Linked DNA regions of Homo sapiens: region 2 is linked to region 1. The links come from fine-mapping of genetic effects on gene expression. A gene starts in region 1. The other region holds a variant in brackets. All regions are shown on one strand. Distances are from middle to middle.

Region 1 (5,380 bases):
CTCCTGCGGCCCCACCTGGAAGCAAATCCGCGCAAGAAGACAGCTTCAACTCCCTGTGATTTCATCTCCAACCCAACCAATCAGCAGCAAGCATCCATTGCCTAGCCACCTCTGCTCCTACCCCTAAACTGTCTTTGAAACTACTCCTCAGAGACTGATTTGAGTAATTATAAAACTCCAGTCTTCCTTTCAGCCAGCTCTGCATGAATTAAACTGTTTCCCCATTGCAATTCCCCTGCCTTCATAAATTGGCTGGCTCTATCTGGGCAGCAGGCAAAAAGAACCCATTGGGGGATTACATAGCCACTCCTCATCGGAGAAATTTCTACTGGCTCTTCTTCCAGCCTCAACTCTCTTTGGCTAATCTTTCTCTATATGTAGCCTTCACTTCTTTTCATCTTTCTCTCTTCTTTCCTCTCCTAGGAGCAAAACAAAATTTCTCCTGGGCCGCACAGTTTGGCAATTATCTTTTGTTGCCTTGGCTGCAGCTACTATGCCATCAGCTCCCAACTCCTAACTTCAATGAACCAAGGAGGTATTTTTCTTAAACAAAGACCACTCCAACCCTGAAGATTGGAATTTCGCCACTGCCTGTAAGGATAACAAGCTTTAATCTGGTTTCTACATGTGGTTTTTGTTTATTTTGTTCCTGTGATTATAAACTGTAATGAAAAAAGAAAATGTTACTGTAATACTTGATATCATGTATTTATCCATGTATCCAACCTTCTTTCCATCCTATCCATCAATCCATCTTATATTCTGGATACTTTTTTTTTTTTTAAGAGACATGGTCTCACTATATTGTCCAGGCTGGTCTCAAACTTCTAGGCTCAATCAATCATCCCACCTTGGTCTCCCAAAGAGCTGGATTACAGGCATAGGTCACTGTGCCAGCATCTGGATACATTTCAAAGAAAATTGTATACATTGGTACACCTTCCCCTAAACACTTTAATATGAATATCATTAACTAGAGGTGACATTTTATTTATATTTTTTCCTTTTGAAGTCATATTAGCGTATTATAAAATGCACAATTTTTTTGTGCGTGTGTGAGATGGGGTCTTACTCTGTCACCCAGGCTGGAGTGCAGTGGCACCATCTTGGCTCACTGCAACCTCCACCTCCTGGGTTCAAGCGATTCTCATGCCTTAGCCTCCCGAGTAGTTAAGACCACAAGCAAGTGCCACCACACCCAGCTAATTTTTGTATTTTTGTAGAAATGGGGTTTCACTATGTTGGCCAGGCTGGTCTCAAACCCCCGACCTCAAGTAATCTGCCCACCTCGGCCTCCCAAAGTGCTGGGATTACAGGTGTGAGCCACCTTGCGCCCTGGGCTGTAGTGTTATTTTTGTGGCAAAAAAATTGAAACCCTAAAATTCTGACTGCAGTGGAAGGGTAAGTGTATTTCAAGCCCTAGTGATACAGACCAACTTGGAAGCTTCAGACAGGAAAAGTTTGCTAGATAGTTATTTATTTTTAACTAAGCATGTACTTTTATGTATCTCCCATATGGCATGGAACACCTGCTCACTGCAGCCTGGAGCTCCTGGGCTCAAGTGATCCTCCCACCTCAGCCTTCTGAGTAGCTTGGACAGCAGGCGCGTGTCACCACATCAGTTAATTTTTGTTATTTTTTGTAGAGAGGGGGTCTCAATATGTTGCCCAGGCATTATGGATTTTATGCATTCGGGACCATCCCATGCTTAAAGCATGACAGAACCCGGCGGCATATTTTTCTCTGCCGCAGCTTTCAGTGCAGGGGCACCTCACAGGCAGGGCGGGGTCAAGGCTCTGTCCAGACAATGGCTGCAGAGTAAAAAGCACTTCCATTTATGGGGGTCAAGGGCGAGGGGAGGGAGAAAGGAGCAGGGAAAGAGGAGAAGTGGCCACATGTACTTTGATTTGTTTTTTGCTTTTTGTTACATGTACTTTTGAAGCAGTATTTAGAAGTAGCCTCTCCTACAGCCCCTGCTGTAGCTTGTCTCCTAGCTGTGAGGTGAGTTATTCAGTACCCTCTAACGTAAAAATGACCTTCAGACAGACAGACAGACACACACACACACACACACACACACACAGAGGAAAACAGCTCTGTCATCCACTTTTTCTTCCTTTCCCGTCCCCAGACCCTCGATTCTCTCTTTAAAATGACTGCTGTGAAGATAACGTAACACAGAGTAATACTAATGACAAATTATCAAAAAAGAAAAAAAAAATAAAAATCTTTATTAGTGTTTTTTAAAATGACGTAAAAGACTATGGGAAAAAATGCCAACAATAGTTATGTATAACTTTTTTGTTCATATTTCCAAAACGTTTATAACATACATAACTTTAAAAGAAAAATAATTTAAAAAATACATATCTGAAAATGAAACCCCGCTGTTTGCCAACGACCAGCTGGCTTAATCTGACTTCGCAGATGTAGCAGTGTTGGAAAACGTCGGTTCTTTTGCTGAGGGAAGGAAGAGATGGGAGGGGTAGAAAGGGCGGTGGTTATTCCCTTTAGTATTTCGATCCGGTCACACAACCTAAATCCAACATCTGCATCAAATGTCTCCTTTCCGAAATACTCTCCCTAAAATGACAGAGAACCTGGCCAGGCGGACAGAACGGCCCCTGCGCATTTGCAGGGGTCCTGGTGGGCTTGCCGGGCAGAGGGCGTGCGGGTCTCAGCAAGCTGCCGGGTCCGCCCAGGCCCCGCCCCATGCCCATTCAGGCCCCGCCCCCGACCCGCAGGCCCCGCCCCCGACCCGCCCCGTCCGCCTCCGTCACGTGATGGGGCGCCGGGTCCAGCCTGTTGCTGATGCTGCCGTGCGGTACTTGTCATGGAGCTGGCACTGCGGCGCTCTCCCGTCCCGCGGTGGTTGCTGCTGCTGCCGCTGCTGCTGGGCCTGAACGCAGGTAGGTTCAAGCAAGAGGCGCACCAGCTGCCATGCCTCTTTTTTCTCCAGGCGTGAGAGTTTGTTACTGGGTTTGTGCTTTTGAAAACATGTCTCTTTTCCCCGGTTCTTACCTTGTGTAATTATATTGCTTTTGAATCTCACTCTTTTTTTTTTTTTTCCTTAAAAAATTCAAAGTGCTTTTTTTGTCCTTTTCTGGCTCTGGGTGGTCTGAGTGCTTCCGTTCTCTCCTACGCCTAGATAGAAGCTGTGTGCAGAAATGTATGATTTGGGGAAACTGCTGGTCAATGAGGTTTCCCCGATTCAAAGGCCATGATTGGCTGCTAAATGAGGATATAAGGTCGTTTTATTTTAAGCTGAAATCTGCGGTCAAAAGTACCCTTACATCCTACCACGAATGGGACATTTCATTGAGATAAGGCCCTTTCTTTTCTTGATCAAAACAAACAAGATAACATCTTCCCCCACAGCGATCTTTTTTGGCAAAAAACAGATTTGTGTTTAATAGGATGACTTGCAAATTGATTTTCAGCAAAACCTCTCCTAGTCTGAAGCAAGCACTGAGAATTGGAACTGGCCACAAGCTTGCCTTGTGACCTTAGGCAAGTTGTTGAACAGTTTTGTTTTCCTTTTCTAAAATGGGGATCATCTGGCCCTTAGGCGAGTGTCTGGGAGATTTTGTAAAATAAGTAGCTCTGCCAATTTTACCAGTAGTCACTGCCAGGCAAGGGAGAAGTGCCTGGGGTTAGGTCAAAAGGTACCTGCGCCTTATCTGTCATTCTCAAGGGAGCGCAGCCTTATCTGTTATTGTCAAGGACAATATAATCGTGTGTTACTTGTATATAGAACCTTATAGCTAAGTCTGTAATGTTTTAGTCATCTGTTTTGCTCCTCAGGACACTTTCTGGTTTTCTTAATCTTCATTGTTGTTTTGTTTTGAGTCAGGGTCTCACTATGTTGCCCAGGCTGGTCTGGAACTGCCTGACTCAAGTGATCTTCCTACTTCAGCATCCCAAGTAGCCCGGACTGCAGACACAGGCCACCACCCTGGCTCTTTCTTATTTACAAGACGTTGTCTCATTGTCTTCCTCTCTACTCCTGTCTCTTTAGCTGTTGGGACCAGTGTTCTTTTACTGACCAATGGGGCTTGAAATTTGAGAAGGGAGGAAATAGAAGGCAGAAAACTCCAGTCACCGAGGGGATCCCCCCCATCATCTTTTAACAACAGCCCCTCTACTTTTTTTTTTCCCAGAGTGGTTTTGGAGGAAAAAAAAAAAGATGCTATAACTTGGAAATTGTTACGTTAGCAAAAAGTGACAAAGAAAATGTATTTAGCCTACTCTTTTCTAAAACATATTTTGTGGATGCTAGAAAAGTTAAGTAAGGAAAATTGGAGTTAGGGGATTATAGGATACGTATATTAAACACACATACACAGATATATATCGTTCAGTTTAAAAAAATCATCTACATGAGTTAGGAAAATTGCCCTTTTTCATATTTGTTGTAGCTCTTTCCTTGCTGTTTGCCTTTTTATTTTTGATTTACAGAAATTTTGTTGTATAGAAATATAACAAGTTTCTGTTCTCACCTCCATCATTGTTTCTTTTGTACAGTCTCTGGGGTTTGCTTAGATTCTTTCCTCATCCAGACATTAGAAATATATTTAACTATATTTTTGTATTTTTTTAATGTTTAAAGTTTAAAATTTAATTGCTTGATCCTCATGGAACTTATTTCGTTTATAGTGTTGAGAGGACCTAAATTTCTCTTTTTTTCTCCAAAAAAGGTAATTGTTGCTCCATTACTGTATATTGAATATTCTCAGCCCCACTAATTTGTGATGCCTCTTCACTCATGTTTTTTGTTTGTTTGGTTGGTTGGTTTTTTGTTTTTTTGAGATAGGATCTCCCTCTGTCACCTAGGCTGGAGTGCACTGGTGTGATCACAGCTCACTGCAGCCTCAACCTACTGGGCTCAAGCGATTCTCCTACCTCTGTCTCCTGAGTAGCTGGGACCACAGGCATATGCCACAATGCCCAGCTAATTTTTGCATTTTTTGTAGAGATGGGGTGTTGCTATGTTGCTTAGACTGGTTTTGAACTCCTATGCACAAGCTATCAGCCTGTCTTGGCCTTCCAAAGTGTTGGGATTACAGGAGTGAGCCACCAAGCCTGGTGTCTTACTCATGTATTAAATACGATATAAAAACCAGTATATTGCATTCTGAGATTTTTACTTTTTTACTCAAAATATAAATCTCTCTTGTTTTTACAGAATTATAAAAGTATTTCCTGTAATCCCAGCACTTTGGTAGGCCTAGGCGGGCAGATCACCTGAGGTCAGGAGTGCGAGACCAGCCTGACCAACATGGAGAAACCCCATCTCTACTAAAAATACAAAATTAGCCAGGCGTGGTGGTGCATGCCTGTAATCCTAGCTACTTGGAAGGCTGAGGCAGGAGAATCGCT
Region 2 (5,380 bases), 31 kb after region 1:
GCATTCTACTTTATGGTTGTACTCTAGTTTATTTACAAAATTCCCAGTTGTTTCCGACAAGTATAATAATTTCTAGTTTGTTGCTATTATACATAGTGCTCTGTTGATTCACCCTGATAGTTAGATTTTTTTGTACCTCCTTATTTTCTTAGAATAAATTCATAAAAGTGTAATTATTTAGTCAGAGGATTGCCACATTTCCTTAAAATCAAAATAATTAGCTCAGGACTTTTAACTTTTTATTCATAGCTCAAGATCTACATAAGGAGGTTTGATGCCGTGGCTCACACCTATAAACCCAGCACTTTGGGAGGTCGAGGCAGGAGGAATGCTTGAGCCCAGGAGTTCAACAACAGCCTGGGCAACATAGGGAGACCCCATTTCTACAAAAAAAATAAAAACATTAGCCGAGCATGGTGGCACACACCTGTAGTCCCAGCTACTCAGGAGGCTGAGGCAGGAGGATCACTTGAGCCAGGGAGGTTGATGTTGCAGTGAGCCATGATCAAGCCACTCACTCCAGCCTGGGTGACAGAGACCCCATCTCAAAAAGAAAAAAAAATCTGCATAGGGGATCTAACAGCTTCTAGGACTGTCTGAAAGAAATATCACCTCTTGTAGTTGCAGGGCTGAGATTTTATTTATTTATTTATTGAGACTCTGTGACCCAGGCTAGAGTGCAGTGGCACAATCATGCCTCAAATGATCCTCCTGCCCCAGCCTCCCAAGTAGCTAGTACCACAGGCAAGCACCATCACATCCAGCTAATTTTTAAAATTTTTTCGTAGAGTTGGAGTCTCACTATGTGGCCCAGGCTGGTCTCGAACTCCCAGGCTCTAGCAATCCACCTGCCTTGGGCTCCCAAAGTGCTGGGATTACAGGCATGAGTCACCAAGCCTGGCCAAAGGCTGAGATTTAAAAAAACAGCCAGGCACGGTGGCTCCAGCCTGTAATCCCAGCACTTCGGGAGGCCAAGGCGGGCAGATCACGAGGTCAGGAGATCGAGACCATCCTGGCTAACACGGTGAAACCCCATCTCTACACACACACACACACAAAATTAGCCAGGCGTGGTGGCGGGCACCTGTAGTCCCAGCTAGTTGGGAGGCTGAGGCAGGAGAATGGCGTGAACCCGGGAGGCAGTGCTTGCAGTGAGCCGAGATCGCGCCACTGCACTCCAGCCTGGGCAACAGAGCAAGACTCTGTCCCAAAAATAAATAAATAAATTAATTAATTAAAAAAAATAACAAACCCAAAGCTTATTCCTGCAGACTGTGAGGAAACAGTTAACAGCAGGTTATGTCTACGTGACTAACCCCTTCAGACCCTGAGACTAAAAACAGGCTCCTGGGACAGAGACTACACATGTCCCTATGGTTCACTGTTGGCAAGAACTCCAGTGTGCCCATGGAAAGCAAGAACCTTAGAAGCCTGTGCTGGATACCCCTGGACATCACCCATGTGTATCGTTTTTACCTGCCGCTTTTGATATGCATCTTTTGTTACAAAAATGTTAGCTATTAGTATAACCTGCTACTGAGCCTTGTGAGTCTTGGTGAACCATCCAACAAAGCAGTGAATCATAAAGCAAGTTGAATTCCCAACCTCACAGAGTCTCTTCTGTTAAAAGTTAGTGCATTGATTGAGAAGAAATGTAATTCTGAACATTGAGATGAGTCACCTGCACAGATGAAGCTAGGGGACCTCAAACCTTTTTGGCCATTAGAAGCCGCCCTTCCATTGCTGTCCGGGCAGGTTAATCATGTCTTGTCCTAAGATCTTGTAGTAAATTCCTAGACTTGCCCAGGGCTCTTATTCCTGCTGTATAACATTCTCTCTCAACCCACACCCCTACCTTCCTAGGGAATCCCTGTGATCAGTTGACAAAGGAAGACAACTCTCAGGCTTGATTTACAGACGGGGCTCCACAGTATGCATGCATCACCTGAATGTGGACCGCTATGGCACCACGGCCACACTCCAGGACAGCCCTGAAAGATGGTGTGAAGAGAAATCCTCCCAGTGGACAGAACTTGGAACAGTGCACTCAGCTCTTCACTTTCCCTGGAAGGGGAAATGAACAGAAGAATAAGTGCACCAATTCATGATTTAGCTGGGTATTTAGGGACTTGGAAGAAACTTGATTAGAAGGCTGGGCACAGTGGTTCATGCCTATAATACCAGCACTTTGAGAGGCTGAGGTGGGAGAATCCCTTGAGTCCAGGAGTTCAAGACCAGCTTGAGCAAGATGATAACACCCTGTATCTACAGAAAATAAAAACATTAACTCAGCATGTTGGTGCACCTCTGTGGTTTCAGCTGTGTAGGAGGCTGAGGTAGGAGAATCACTTGAGCCTGGCAGGTTGGTTGAGGCTACAGCGAGCCATATTTGTACTCCAGCCTGAGTGACAGGGTGAGACCTTGTCTCAAAAAGAAAAAAAACTTGATTAGAAAATTGATGACAAGAAGCTCTGAGGAAGAGGTATGAGATTAGATCTCTGAATGGCCGAGTATGAAGATCATTGTTTTCCATCTGAATACTCAACTAGGGCAAGGGAAGATTTTAATAATCAGGTGGGTAGATGACCCATTCTGTGGCTATTAGCCTCCTTCAGCCATTCCTGTAGACTCATGAACAAAGTGGCCATGGCGGCGGGGATGGAGGCTA[T/C]GCATGGGCTTGGCAACATGTGCTTCCACTTACTAAGGGTGACCTGGTCACAGCCACTGCTGAGTGCCCCATCTGCCAGCAGAAGAAACAACACTGAGCCCCTAATGTGGCATCACTGCTGAAGAGATCAGCCGGCTACCTGGTGTTAGGCTGATTACATTGGACCACTTTTATTATGAGGCAGGCAGCACTGTGTTTTCAATGGAATTAACCCTTGCTCTGGACATAGATGTGCCTTCCTTTCCCACAATGCTTCTGCCAAAACTAGCATCTGTGGACCTACGGAGTGTCTCATCCATGACTATGGTATTCACAGCAAATGAAAGGCAGCAGTGAATTTACACAAGTGGAATTGACTGCTCTCACCATGTTCCCCATCCTCTTGAAGCAACTGCCCTGACAGATGGTTGAATGACTGAAAATTCAGTTACAGGGCCAGCTAGGAGGGGATAGATTGCAGGGCTGGGGTGCTGCCCTCCAGTATGTGGTACATGCTCTAAATCAACCGCCTTGTTTCTCCCATACCCAGGATTCATGAGTCCAGTTATCAAGGGATAAAAATGAAAGCGACTCCTCTCACTGTTAACCCTAGTGATCCAGTGGTAGAATTTTTGCTTCCCATCCCTGCAACTTTAGGTTTTGCTGGTCTAGAGGTCTTAGTTACAACGGGAGAAATGTTTTCTCTAGGAGACACAGCAGATAATCCGTGGAACTGGAGCTTGAAGCCACCATCTGGCCTCTTTGGGCACTGCATCAACAGGCAAAGTGCTGTCTGCAGTGATTGATCTGACTATCAAGAGGAAATGGGGTTGCTCCTACACAATGGACGTAAGAAGGAAGAATGCAGGAGATCCTTTGGGGCACCCCCTAGTACTGCCATATCCTGTGATTAAGGTCAATGGAGAGCTACAACAACCCAATTAAGACCGCTAATGGCCCAGACCCTTCACAAAAGATTTAAGTCATTCCATCAGGCAAAAAGCCACGACCAACTGAAGTGCTTGCCGAGGGCAAAAGATACGCAGAATAAATCATAGATGAGGGCAGTCATAAGTACTATGACCTTGTGACCCACTGTAGAAACGAGGACTGTAATAATTATGAGTATTTCTTTCTTCTTTTGATGTGAATCTATTTTAATAAATATTAACAAAAAAACTTTTTTTTTTGAGACAGGGTTATGCTCTGTCAACCAGGCTGAAGTGCAGTGGCACAATCACAGCTCACTGCAGCCTTCACCCCCCACCTCCCTGGGCTCAAGTGATCCTCCCACCTCAGCGCCCCCAGTAGCTGGGACTGCAGGCATGCACCACCATACCCAGCTAATTTCTGTATTTTTTGTAGAGATGAAGTTTTACCATGTTGCCCAGGCTAGTCTGAAACTCCTGGGCTCAAGTGATCTGCCCGCCTCTGCCTCCCAAAATGCTCTGCCTCCCAAAATGCTGGGATTACAGGCATAAGCCACAGCTGCATCTGGTGAACCAAATATTTTTGTTTTTATCTCTCATTCCTTTATCGTCTCTGATGTGCTAATAGTATTTAACCTTTTTTGTTTTTCTTTTTTAAGACAGGGTCTTGCTCTGTCACCGAGGCTGCAGTGCAGTGGTGCAATCACGGCTCACTGCAGCCTCAATCTCCTGGGCTCAAACGATCCTCCCAGGTAGCTGTGACTGCAGGTGCATACCATTGTGCCTGGCTTTTTTTTTTTTTTTTTTTTTTTGAGACAGGGTGTTGCTATGTTACCCAGGCTGGTCTTCAACTCCTGGCTTAAAGCAATCCTCGCAGCTTGGCCTCCCAAAATGCTTGTACCTAACTTTACATATAAATATTTATATTACAAGATGTCAAGGAAGGAATGTGAAACAGCTAGTAAAAGAATGAGCATCATCCAAAGACAAAAAGTGGACTCTGATTCTCTTCTGGGGAAAAAGATGTGTATTTCTGGGTATAGGAAGGACAGTTGTGTCATGGTAAGCAGAGTATGACTTTGTTATTGACTTTATTTGGAGATTAAGTGTGGTTTAAGGCAATGTTATGGGTGCCAAGTTGACAAGGGGTGGACTGTAGTGTTTTTGTAATGTTTCAACTTGCCTAGGCTAACTTTTTCAGAATTACCTTTCTTGTATGTTTCTGATTAGGGTGGCCCACAAGAGAAATTCTTCGGAAAATGTGGAGGGTGAAGTGAAGCAGCAACAGTTTTTCATTCATGCATGTTATCGTTTTTCTGCTGGCTCAGCTCAGCTGAGCTCAGCTGCTCCCCCTTCCCCCGGATCCTCCTAGAGCATGTCTGCTTCCCGGGCCAGGTGAGTGTGCTTAGCACTAAGAGGGACCCAAGAACTGACATGCGTTTCAGTCCCATGGACTCCATCTCTTGCTTGTGGGATTCACATTGTTCTTGTCCTTCTCCACTTTACATTCCTTGTTCCTTCCTGACTGCTTGCCCTGTGTACTTCAATCTCCAGCATCAGATTTGGAGACAAAAGCCTTATGAAGACTTCTTAACCAGCTCCACACTGCATAAGTCAAATCCCTGTTACACCTTCCCCCATACGCACGGCTGTGCACATGCAAACACGCACACACCGTTCTGCTTCTGAAATTGAATCCTTTTTTATTTTTGAGATAGAGTCACTCAGGCTTTAGGGCAGTGGTGCGATCACAGCCGCCTCGAACTTCTGGGCTCAAGCCATCCTCCTGCCTCGGCCTCCCAAG

What was found.
Region 2: its variant is fine-mapped to the expression of SCPEP1 in whole blood (TOPMed, PIP above 0.99).

The regions. Positions count from the first base shown.
Region 1 is chr17:56,975,326-56,980,705 of GRCh38, forward strand. SCPEP1 (serine carboxypeptidase 1) reads left to right here and starts at 2,806. Exons shown (of 13, transcript NM_021626.3): 1 at 2,806-2,910. The coding sequence starts at 2,835. LOC105371836 (a long non-coding RNA gene) reads left to right here. Exons shown (of 4, transcript XR_934875.4): 4 at 424-682. RefSeq lists a silencer at 2,689-2,748.
Region 2 is chr17:57,006,779-57,012,158 of GRCh38, forward strand. No RefSeq gene overlaps it. Among named protein-coding and RNA genes, the nearest start is that of SCPEP1, 31 kb to the left of the region's middle. RefSeq lists enhancers at 3,203-3,832, 3,469-3,668. The variant T/C (reference allele first, on the strand shown) is at 2,669.